Regions from separate parts of the Homo sapiens genome. Here region 1 is linked to region 2. Evidence: fine-mapped expression QTL. A gene starts in region 2. The other region holds a variant in brackets. All regions are shown on one strand. Distances are between the middles of the regions.

The links.
Region 1: its variant is fine-mapped to the expression of NHLRC4 in monocytes (TOPMed, PIP 0.95).

The regions. Positions count from the first base shown.
Region 1 is chr16:232,326-237,684 of GRCh38, reverse strand. FAM234A (family with sequence similarity 234 member A) reads right to left here and starts at 2,864. Exons shown (of 13, transcript NM_032039.4): 1 at 2,828-2,864. RefSeq lists silencers at 2,582-3,041, 3,122-3,171 and an enhancer at 2,904-3,447. The variant C/T (reference allele first, on the strand shown) is at 2,567.
Region 2 is chr16:563,772-569,130 of GRCh38, reverse strand. NHLRC4 (NHL repeat containing 4) reads right to left here and starts at 2,126. Exons shown (of 2, transcript NM_001301159.2): 1 at 2,056-2,126; 2 at 1-1,660. The coding sequence starts at 1,083. The coding sequence ends at 712. It overlaps PRR35 (proline rich 35), which reads right to left. Exons shown (of 3, transcript NM_145270.3): 2 at 4,755-5,359; 3 at 3,602-4,457. The coding sequence ends at 3,824. RefSeq lists enhancers at 1,802-1,851, 1,800-2,695, 3,591-4,487.

The DNA.
Region 1 (5,359 bases), 330 kb after region 2:
ACCTTCCACTTTCACTCCGAGATCACTTGCTCTAAGGGAAGATAATTACCATGTGAGGACATGGGCCCTAAGGAAAGTTCCATGATGCAAGGAACTGAGGGCTCCTGCCACCAGCCAAGAGGGAACTGAGGCTTCCAGTCACTAGCCTTGTGAGTGAGCCATCTTGGAATCAGATCCTCCAGCCCTGGTCCAGCTTTTATTTTATTTGTTCTTTTTAAATTTTCGACCTCTAGAAAAAACAGAAAAGACTCCATCCAGCTTTTAGACACCTGCAGCCCCAGCCAACATCTTGGCTGCAACTCCATGAGACCCGAAGTCATAATCACCCAGATAAGCCACTGATCAATTCCTGACCCACAGAAACTGTTGGATAATAAATATTCGTCACTTTAATCCATTAAACTTTGTGTTGTTACAAGCAGCAGACAACCATTAGAAGTCAGCAGAATGGAAGCAAGGAGCCTGAAAAGAAAAAGAAGGGGTGGGCATGGTGGCTCACACCTGTAATCCTAACACTTTGCGAGGCCAAGGCAGGAGGACTGCTTGAAGCCAGGAGTTTGAGACCTGCCTGGGCAACACAGTGAGAACCCATCTACATATTTTTTTAAAAAAATACATAAATAAATAAACAGGCTGGGCGCAGTGGCTCACACTTATAATTCCAGCACTTCAGGAGGCCAACAAAGGAGGGTTGCTTGGGCACAGGAGTTCAGGACCAGACTGAGAAAGAGAGACCCCATCCCTACAAAATAATTTATTTATTTATTTTATTTTATTTTTTTGAGACAGTCTCGCTGTGGCCCAGGCTGGAGTGCAGTGGCGCGATCTCGGCTCACTGCAGGCTCCGCCCCCCGGGGTTTCCGCCATTCTCCTGCCTCAGCCTCCCGCGTAGCTGGGACTACAGGCGCCCGCCACCTCGCCCGGCTAATTTTTTGTATTTTTAGTAGAGACGGGGTTTCACCGTGTTAGCCACGATGGTCTCGATCTCCTGACCTCGTGATCCGCCCGCCTCGCCCTCCCAAAGTGCTGGGATTACAGGCGTGAGCCACCGCGCCCGGCCTATTTATTTTGAGACAGTCTCGCTATGTCTCCAGAGCGTAGTGGTGCAATCTCGGCTCACTGCAACCTCTGCCTCTCGGGTTCAAGCTATTCTCCTGCCCCAGCCTCCCAAGTAGCTGGGACTACAGGTGTGCGCCACCACACCCAGCTAATTTTTATATTTTTAGTAGAGACGGGATTTCACCATGTTGGACAGGATGGTCTCGATCTCTTGACCTAGTGATCCGCCTACCCCAAACTCCCAAAGTGCTGGGATTACAGGCATGAGCCACTGCGCCCACCCAAAAAAAATTTTTAAGAAAAATAAATATGGTGGCACATGCCTGTAGTCCCAGATACTCAGGAGGGTGGAGCAAAAGGAAAAAAAGAGGGCCAGTTGCGGTGGCTCACACCTGTAATCCCAGCACTTTGGGAGGCCGAGGCGAGTGGATCACCTGAGGTCAGGAGTTTGAGACTGGCCTGGCCAACATGGTGAAACCCCTACTAAAAATAAAAAATAAAAAAAATTAGCTGGGTGTGGTGGCGGGCACCTGTAATCACAGCTACTTGGGAGGCTGAGTGGGGAGAATCGCTTGAACCCGAGTAACTGGGATTACCGGCACCTGCCACCATACGCAGCTAATTTTTTTATTTTTAGTAGAGACGGGATTTCACCATGTTGGCCATGCTGGTCTCGAACTCCTGACCTCAGGTGATCCGCCTGCCTCGGCCTCCCAAAGTGCTGGGATGACAGGCGTGAGCCACCGCGCCGGCCCAGCAAGCTCCATTTTTTATTTATCTAATTTACTATCTGTACCCTCCAGTAGAATAGAAGCTCCTTGAGGACAGGAAGTTCTTTCGTGGAGTACTATATCCTTAGCTCCTACAACCATCCCTGGTTCCCAGCAGACACTCGGAGAGTATTTGTTGAGTTATTCTGCTCTAATTGGATGCAGACTGAAATTGCAATAAGGGAAGTAGTGTAATCTGATGCTGGCGCCGTAAAGACACCGGCAGCCAGTACATGGAAGGGAGCGCGTCACAGCCTCCTCAGCTGGAATCACAAGGTTTAGAACCAGAGAGTAAGTGAAATTGCCTACCCTGATATCCTATCAGTCTGTCCAAGGGCAAACTCTCTCCTTGACAACTCTCGGCCAACGAACGTAGGGGAGAGCCAGGAACGCTAATCCCAGTGTTTTCCTCCCATCTAGCCTCTGTTTTGTGTTCTATGCCTGAGTCCCTCCCACAGACGAGCAACCTCGGCTGCGCTCGGGGAGCTTTCCCGGGGTGCCGGACGGACAAGCTTGCAGACAGCGTCCCGAGAGAGGACACGCCTCTCCGACCCCCGTGAGGCTTCTCATCCACATTCTTCCACCATAAAAAAACACTCTCAGGCAACCCAGGCGGCACCAAGAGCGAAAGCGACCACGGCCGGCTCACCTACGCTGCGCCACGGCGGGGAGCTCCCTACCGGGAGGTAAAACCCCGCTTTGAGGAACATGTGGGCTTGTTCTGAATGCCACTGAAA[C/T]CCAGGCTGCGGCAATGGGGGAAACCCGAAAGAATCAGCCTCCAGAGGCGCTGCTGCCGACCCGCTGAGGGACTTGGGGCCCCGCCGCAGCCTCCCGGCCCGCACCCGACTCGGGAAGGCGGAGGAGCTAGGGGGCAGCACGGCGGGGTCCTCCAGGGGCCGAGGGACTGGGGAACCTGGGGGCCGGGGTCCCAGAGCGAAGGGGCGGCCTGCGGCGCCCCTGCGGCGTGCACGCGCGAGTACGAGGCCGCGCTCACTCACCTGCCGCCGCGGCCTCTCACCCGACCGCGCCGCTGGCCCCGCCCCCTGGCGTCACTTCCGACCAGCCGGGCGGGCGGGGGCGGAAATGCGCAGGCTCCGACCCCGCCCCACCGCCATGCTTCGGTTGCTCGGCAACGGGGATCTTGGGCGCTGCCTCCGCCGGGAACCTGGCGGTGTCCTGTTTGTCGCTGTCGCAATGGATGCTGAACGTCCTCGCCCCTCTTCGTTCCCGTCCCCCCTCCGTCCTCGCTCCTCTCCGTCCTCTTTCCCCTCCTTCTCTGCGTCCTCGCTCCCCTCCTCCTCCTCTCCCGACCTTGTCCTCTTCCCGCCTTCTTTCTTGACGTCGACCCCCGATCTGCGTCCTCGCCCCCGCTTCCGGGTGCTCTCCCCAGTGTTTCTCCTCTTTGACCACGAGGAGAATTGCTGGCACTGAGGATGCGAATTTTCGGCCTTGAAATACGGTGCCAGGGCCGGGGGCGGTGGCTCACGCCTGTAATTCCAGCACTTTGGGAGGCCGAGGCGGGCGGATTACAAGGTCAGGAGATCGAGACCATCCTGGCTAACACTGTGAAACCCCGTCTCTACTAAAAATACAAAAAATTAGCCAGGCGTGGTGGCGGGCGCCTGTAGTCCCAGCTACTCAGGAGGCTGAGGCAGGAGAATGGCGTGAACCCAGGAGGCGGAGGTTGCAGTGAGCTTAGACTGCGCCACTGCACTCCAGCCTGGGCGACAGAGCCAGACCGTGTCTCAAAAAAAAAAAAAAAAAAAAAAAAAAAAAAGGCTAGGGGCTCATGCCTGTAATCCCAGCACTTTGGGAGGCCGAGGCAGGTGGATCACCTGAGGTCGGGAGTTCAAGACCAGCCTGACCAACATGTATAAACCCAGTCTCTACTAAAAATCCAAAATTAGCTGGACTTGGTGGCGCGTGCTTGTAATCATAGCTACTCGGGAGGCTGAGGCAGGAGAGTTGCTTCAACCTGGGAGGCAAGAGTTTGCGGTGAACTGAGATCTTGCCATTGCACTCCAGCCTGGGCAACTAGAGTGAAACTCCGTCTCAAAAAAAAAAAAAAAAGGATGGGGTCTCCCTCTGTCCCTCAGGCTCAAGTGCAGTGGCGGGATCACAGCTTACTGCAACCTCTGCTTCCCAGGCACAAGTGATCTTCTCACCTCAGCCTCCGGAGTAGCTAGGACTACAGCTGTAAGCCACCATGCCCAGCTAATTTTTTTCCTTTCTTGTAGACATGGGGTTTTGCCATATTAACCAGGCTGGTCTTGAACTCCTGGACTCAAGTGATCTCCTGCTTTGGCCTCCCAAAGTGCTGGGATTTCAAGCATGGGCCACTGTGCCTGGCAGTTGTCTGATTTCTAGTAACTGTGGCAGTTTGGTAGGTGCGTAATTCAGATGATTTAATTGCTTTGTTCAAATGGCCAATTGGAAGCAAAGTCATGCCTTAAAACATTATTTAAAACTTGTCAGCCGGGCACAGTGGCTCATGCCTATAATCCCAGCACTTTGGGAGGCCGAGGTGGGTGGATCTCAAGGTCAGGAAATCTAGACCATCCTGGCTAACACTGTGAAACCCCGTCTCTATTAAAAATACAAGAAAATTAGCCAGGCGTGGTGACGGGCGCCTATAGTCCCAGCTACTTGGGAGGCTGAGGCAGGAGAATGGTGTGAACCTCGGAGGCGGAGCTTGCAGTGAGCTGAGATCGCGCCACTGCACTCCAGCCTGGGCGACAGAGTGAGACTCTGTCTCAAAATAAATGAAAACAAAACTTGTCTAACCGTGTCTGGACTTTTGATGCTTCTAGCCCATGAACAGTCTTTGTTGTATTCTTAGAGTAAGTCTTTTTTCCCCCTTCCAGGGCAGCAATCATATTAAATTATCATTTGTGAAATGATTTTTTAAAATTTAAATTTTATTTTTTAATTAATTAATTTTTTTGAGGTGGAGTGTCAAAATAGACCACTCCCGGCCTGTTTTTTTTTTGAGATGGAGTCTCCCTTTATCGCCCAGGCTGGAGTGCCGCGGCACAATCTTGGCTCACTGCAACCTCCGCTTCCTGGGTTCAAGTGATTCTCCTGCCTCAGCCTCCTGAGTAGCTGGAACTACAGGCGTGTGCCACCACACCAGGCTAGTTTTTTTGTATTTTTAGTAGAGACAGGATTTCACCATGTTGGCCAGGCTGGTCTTGAACTCCTGACCTTGTGATCCACCCACCTCGGCCTCCCAAAGTGTTGGGATTACAGGCGTGAGCCACTGTGATCGGCCTTTTTTTTGGCCGGGGGGAGAGGGAGTTTTGCTTTTGTTGCCCAGGCTGGAGTGCAATGATGCATTCTCGGCTCACCGCAACCTCTGCCTCCCAGGTTCAAGCAATTCTCCTCCCTCAGCCTCTCGAGTAGCTGGGATTACAGGCATGCGTCATCACGCCTGGCTAATTTTGTATTTTTAGTAGAGATGGGGTTTCTCCATGTTGGTCAGTCTGGCCTCAAACTCCTGACCTCAGGTGATCGCCTGCCTCGGCCTCCCA
Region 2 (5,359 bases):
GACAAACAGCATGGAGCTGTTTGTCCCTGTCTGCAGAATGAAGGCCCAGACAGCTTTCATTCATGGGGACGCGGAAGAAAAGGCATCCAGGGTTCAGCCAGCCATGGGCCTCCAGACACTCCAGGGTTGCCTCCCCCTTACCTCTGCCAGGCCCAGAGAAGCTACTGGAGGCTCAGGACTCTAGGTCCCTCTGAGGTTGGGGACATTTAGGGGCCACACCCCTGCCCCAGGCCGCCCCGCCCAGCCCAGCCCAGCCACACCCTCCCTGCCTGTCTGCCCCCGATTAGGAGGCCTGGGCAGGGGCACCTGGTGGGAGAGTCTGCCTAGCTGTGTGCCGGCAGCTGGCCCAGGATCTCAAGGCTTCAGCTGCCAGCCCCAAAGTCCAGGCACAGGGCCTGAGGGGGTGTGGGGGGCATGAATGCAGGGGCCAGGGCACTGAATGGGGACAGCAGAGAGCAGCCCTGGCTGGGGAGGCTGCAGGCCTGGCAGGGGCAGCCTGGGAAGCAGACTCAGGGCTGCTCCTGAGATCCGGAGCCTCACCAGCAGGAGAACTCGAGCCAAGCCCAGGGCCCAGCCCAGGTGGTGCTGGCATCAGGCAGGCAATGCCCATAGCCTGGAGGCTCCACCCATCCTGAGGGTTCCTCCCGCGGTGATCCAAGGGCCTGGGAGCTGGCCTCAGGCACAGGAGGGCTGCTCCAACCCAGCCTCAGGTCAGGCCAGCTCCTTGAGGCCCTGGTACACCTTGATGGAGTTGTCCTTGGCATCAGCCACCAGGAGCTGGCCCTGGGGTGCACAGGCCACTCCCAAGGGCTGCCCAAGCCCCTCTGACACCAGGCAGATGGGTGGCCCAGCCCGGGGAAACAGGGTCACCTGGCGCCTCTGCTCGTCTGCCACAATAACATTGCCCTCTGAGTTGGAGCAGATGCCCGCTGGGCAGCCGAAAGTGTGCCCCGTCCAGCCCCCCAGGGAGCCCAGGGGTTGGCGGGCACTGCCAAACAGCCTCACATCCCCAAACTCCTCACTCACAGCAAGGCCCCCATCAGGCCCTGGGCCCACCCAGCAGGGGCCCTCCAGACCCAGCATGGAGGCTGGGGCCAGGGGCTCCCAAGCAGGACCCAACGAGAAGCTGTGCACAGCCCCAGGCAAGTAGTCCGTCACCAGGAGGCGGTTGAGGGCATCCACAGCCAGCCCTCGGGGAGACAGGAAGGTGCCCACTGTCACCCAGTGGCCCCCGGGGTCCCGGGCTGTGTGCTGGAGTGCATGGACAGCCCCATGGATGGGATCGCTGACCACCACAAGCCCTGACGCTGTCACAGCCACGTCCTCTGGAACGAAGGCCCCGCTCCCCGGAGTGCGGCAGGGCAGGAGGCAGATGGGGCGTCCCTCCAGATCTAGCACGTGGACACAGGGTGCAGCCCCGGCCGTGAGGAAGAGCAGGCCATCGGGGGAGCAGTGCAGGCCCCGGGGCCCTCCCACAGCCCCTGCGGGCACCCGGATCCACCCAAGCAGCCGGAGCTGCCGGGAGCCCGTGGAGTCTCCAGGTGGGTCCAGTGTGAGGTGCAGACACCTGGAGGCCAGAGTCCAGTCAGTCCGAATCACCGTCTCAGCTTCTCTGCAGCTGGGTCACGCTTGGGGCTGCAAGAGAGAGAATAAGGCCCCACTGTGTGTGGGAATGGCAAAGTCACTCCTCCAGTTTCTTCCTATGAGGCCGGGTCCTCCTGGTCCTGAGGGTCTACCTGGCCACCAAGCCCAGCGGCCACCCTAGTGTCTAGGTGCCTGGGACTTGAGTCTGGGAGACACATGACCCGTGGAGCTCGCTGTGGGTTTTCCCCTGAGCCCCAGATGAGCTCATGGGCCTCAGACAGATAAGCAACATTTCTCAAATCCATCTGCCTGTGGAACCCCTTTCTACGGCGGGGGGGCGGTCACCCACACACAGCCCTTCTACCCGAGCCCCTAGGTCAGGGAGACTTCTGACCCCTTAGGGGCGAGGCAGCCTATTCCGAGGGCCTCCACCTGCCCCACCGAGAGAGGCCGGGGGGAGGGGTCTCTTACCTGGGCCCTGTCTCGCTGGGCCCTGCTTCGGGGCTGGGTGGCTGCAGCCTCTGTTGTTGGAAACTAGAACTGGAGGAAGTGGGAGGAGCCACTGGCAGGGACGCAGCTGGGCCGGGTGGAGGAGGGAGAGTGCAGTCTCCGGCCTTGGCCCCTGAAGCTTCTATGAAAGAAAAACCAGGTCCCCTGAGGACTCCCCATGCTGTGGTGTTCCTGCCTCCGCGCCTTGTTGCAGGCTGCGCCCTCTGCCCGGACACTATTCCCACGTCCCCTACACGGCCAGATGCCATGCAGCCCACCCCCCTCCAGGGGTCCCCCATGGTCCCCCCACAACCAGCAAGTTCATTACTCCAAGTGGCAAGGCAGCCCCAGGCTGCCACCCCCAAGCAGGGTCCTTGGGTCTGGACCACAGGCGGGTGACCTGCTGGCTGAGGCACCCTCCATGAGGCCTGTCCTGCTCCCCACGGGTGACAGCGAAGGAGGTCGTGTCTCCACACCTGGGAGACGGGTGCTGTTGCCCCCAGCAAGGCCATGCTCACCTGTCTGCTCAGTGGGGGTGAGAAACTGAGGTGCAGTGGACATATGGGGTGCAGTGGACATATGGGGGGCGGGGGCTGAGGACAGGGAGTCTCCCTCAGACTCGGGACTTGGGAACAGTTCCTGGCTGCCCAGAGCCCCCTGCAGCCCCTCCAGGAAGCCTCTGGGTAGAGGGGCCCGGCTGGGACCTGTCCCCACAGCACTCCGCGCCTGGCCAGGCAGCACCCCAGCTCTAGCTGCCCCGAGGCAGGGTCGGGGCTGATGCTATCTCCCTGGTAGTTAATGGGGCCGCTGCCAGCCTGCTTGGACTGGCCCCAGCCCGGCTGGACGCAGGCAGGAACTGCTTCTCCTCCTGGGGGGGCGATGTGGGCTCCAGAGCCCATTCCAGGGTGGGCGTGGAGGGTGTGGCCAGCTCTCCCAGGAGAGAAGTGATTTGCTGTGGGGGTCCCGGGTGCCCCTCCCTGTCTGCCCATCCCCTGCCCGTGGGAGGGCCAAGCCAGGCCCTGCTGGGAGGGAGGCAGTGAGCTGTGAAGGCTGATACCTATCACGGCTGCAGGGGCTGGCAGGGGCCAGCAGAGCCCACGCTGGGTGAGCAGCCTCCAGCCACAGAGCCCCGGGGCCACCGTTTAACCGCAGGAGAGCTGATATGAGCGCGGCCTTGCTGGATTCAGAGGCTAGAGGATGTTCAGGGGTCCGTGCCCACCCCCGACACACCAAGACACAGGCCGAGCAGCCCAGTCCACACGCCTCTCCACCCCCGACACACCAAGACACAGGCCGAGCAGCCCAGTCCACACGGCTCTCCTGGCTCAGCTCCCGTCGCCGATGTCCCGCCCCACCCCCAGACCCCAGCCCCGCGGGGAGGGCCCAGCCCACAGGAGAGGGCCGAGTCTGAAGACAGAGGCCCAGCAGGACTGCTGCCCACCCAGGCCTCCCAGGCCAGGACACTTCCTTAGGGGGGTGTCCAGGTGGCTACACTAGGGCCCCAAAGGAAGGAGGCACAGACGGCGTGTGTGAACAGTTTCTGTTTTAATGTCCACAATTGTGATCAATAAATAACTGTGACCTCCAGTGTCCCTGTGTGGCCCCAGGGACAAGCGTTGGCCACGGCCCGTGGGGGTCTATCCACATGCATGCGGAGGCGGGGCAGGTCCCAGGCAGGTGAGGGGCAGGGGCTGCAGGAGAGGGGCCGGCATGCTGCAGGCAGAGACAGTCAGACCTCAGGCGCTGCAGGTCAGACCTCGGCGCCCTGGGGGCTCTGCAGGCCACAGACAGCCTCAGGGGTCTGGGAACTCCTCGTCGCAACACAGGTGCCCCAGCCACTGCCAGGAATGACAGGGTCATCTGGGGCTGCGAGGGGGAGCCCTGGGGGTGGGACGCTGGAGTCGGCCTCACACTTGGTGGTGTGGCCAGAGAAGGGTTGGGGCGCTGCAGGGCCCAGCATGCCGGGTGGCTCGGGGGTGCCCCCGGTCAACACGGGACCCAGCTCGGGCCGCCCCCACGCCTCTCCAAGAGCCTGGGGCCCCTTGGCGGGCGCACGTTTCACAGAGAGGTCGAGGGGTGCGTCTGGCGGCCTCACGGCCTGCTCCAGCGCCTGGTGAATGGTGAGCAGCTCCAGGCGGATCTTGCCCAGCTGCTCCCGCAGGGGTCTCGGGGCCAGGCCCCCCGCGGGCCCCAACTGTCCCAGGCGCTGCTCCACCCTGGCGTAGTCACCGAGGGCTCGGGTCAGGTCCTCGCCCACATGCTCCGGGCTTCCTGGCACTGGGCCCCGTGGCTGCAGGGGGAGGGGGCCCTCAGGGCCGGGGGTCTCAGGGCCGCCTGGATCCCCGTCCTCAGGCCACAGCATCACAGAGGAGCCGGTGGGCAGGCTGTGGGGTGGAAGCTGGTCAGGAGGCCGCACTGCCCCCACAGCGCCCCCGGCCCCTGCCCCTCTCCCCTCACGGCCTCTGCCCTGTGGCCCCAGCCTAGAGCCTAGGCTCTCCTGGAGACCCCGAGGACCCCCGCGCTGGCTCTCGGGTCTCAGTTCCCCTCTGTGGCCTGGAGCCCACTTTCCCAGCGACTGAGCTCAGGACGGACCCCAGCCGCCATGCCCAGCCGCCCAACCGCCATGCCCAGCCGCCCAGCCCCTCCGTCCACCCCAGGAACCGGGAGCCCAAGACGCCCACCTGCTCCGGGAACAGAACCTTGTCAGGCTGGGGGATGCCTTCGGAAGCTCCAGCCTGCTTCCCAGGGACAGCCTCCTCCTGGGGTCACTCTGGGCTGCCCGCTCCAGCTCCCCCTCCTGCCCTGGGTCCCTGGGGGTGACTCGGGGCCAGGGCCCCAGCCCTGGAACTGGCACCTTCAGCAGGCCAGGAGCCGGAGTCCCAGAGGGGCTCCTGGGGGAGACAGGGGCCTTGGCAAGGGCAGCTTTGCCTGCTGGCAGCCCCAGAGTGTGCTCCAGAAGCAGCGGGTAGTACAGGCGGGGGGCCGGGGTGGGGCGCTGAGGGGGCTGCACGGCTGGGAAGGCCGTGGCCGGGGGCAGCAGGGGGCTGGCCGAGGCCAGGAAGGGCACATGGGCTGCAGCGGCCAGTGAGGGCCCCAAGTAGGAGAAGAGGCCGGGGCTGAGCGGGTAGTTGACGCCCAGCAGAGACAGGTGGAGGCTGTGGGCCTCAGGGAACTCCCCTGGGGCAGGCGGGGGATAGCAGGGGACGCTGCCCTCAGGGCCTGCTGAGGCCATGTCCCCCGCACCCACGCCCCTTGGGTCCCCTCCCATCCCCGGCTTCCACGACTC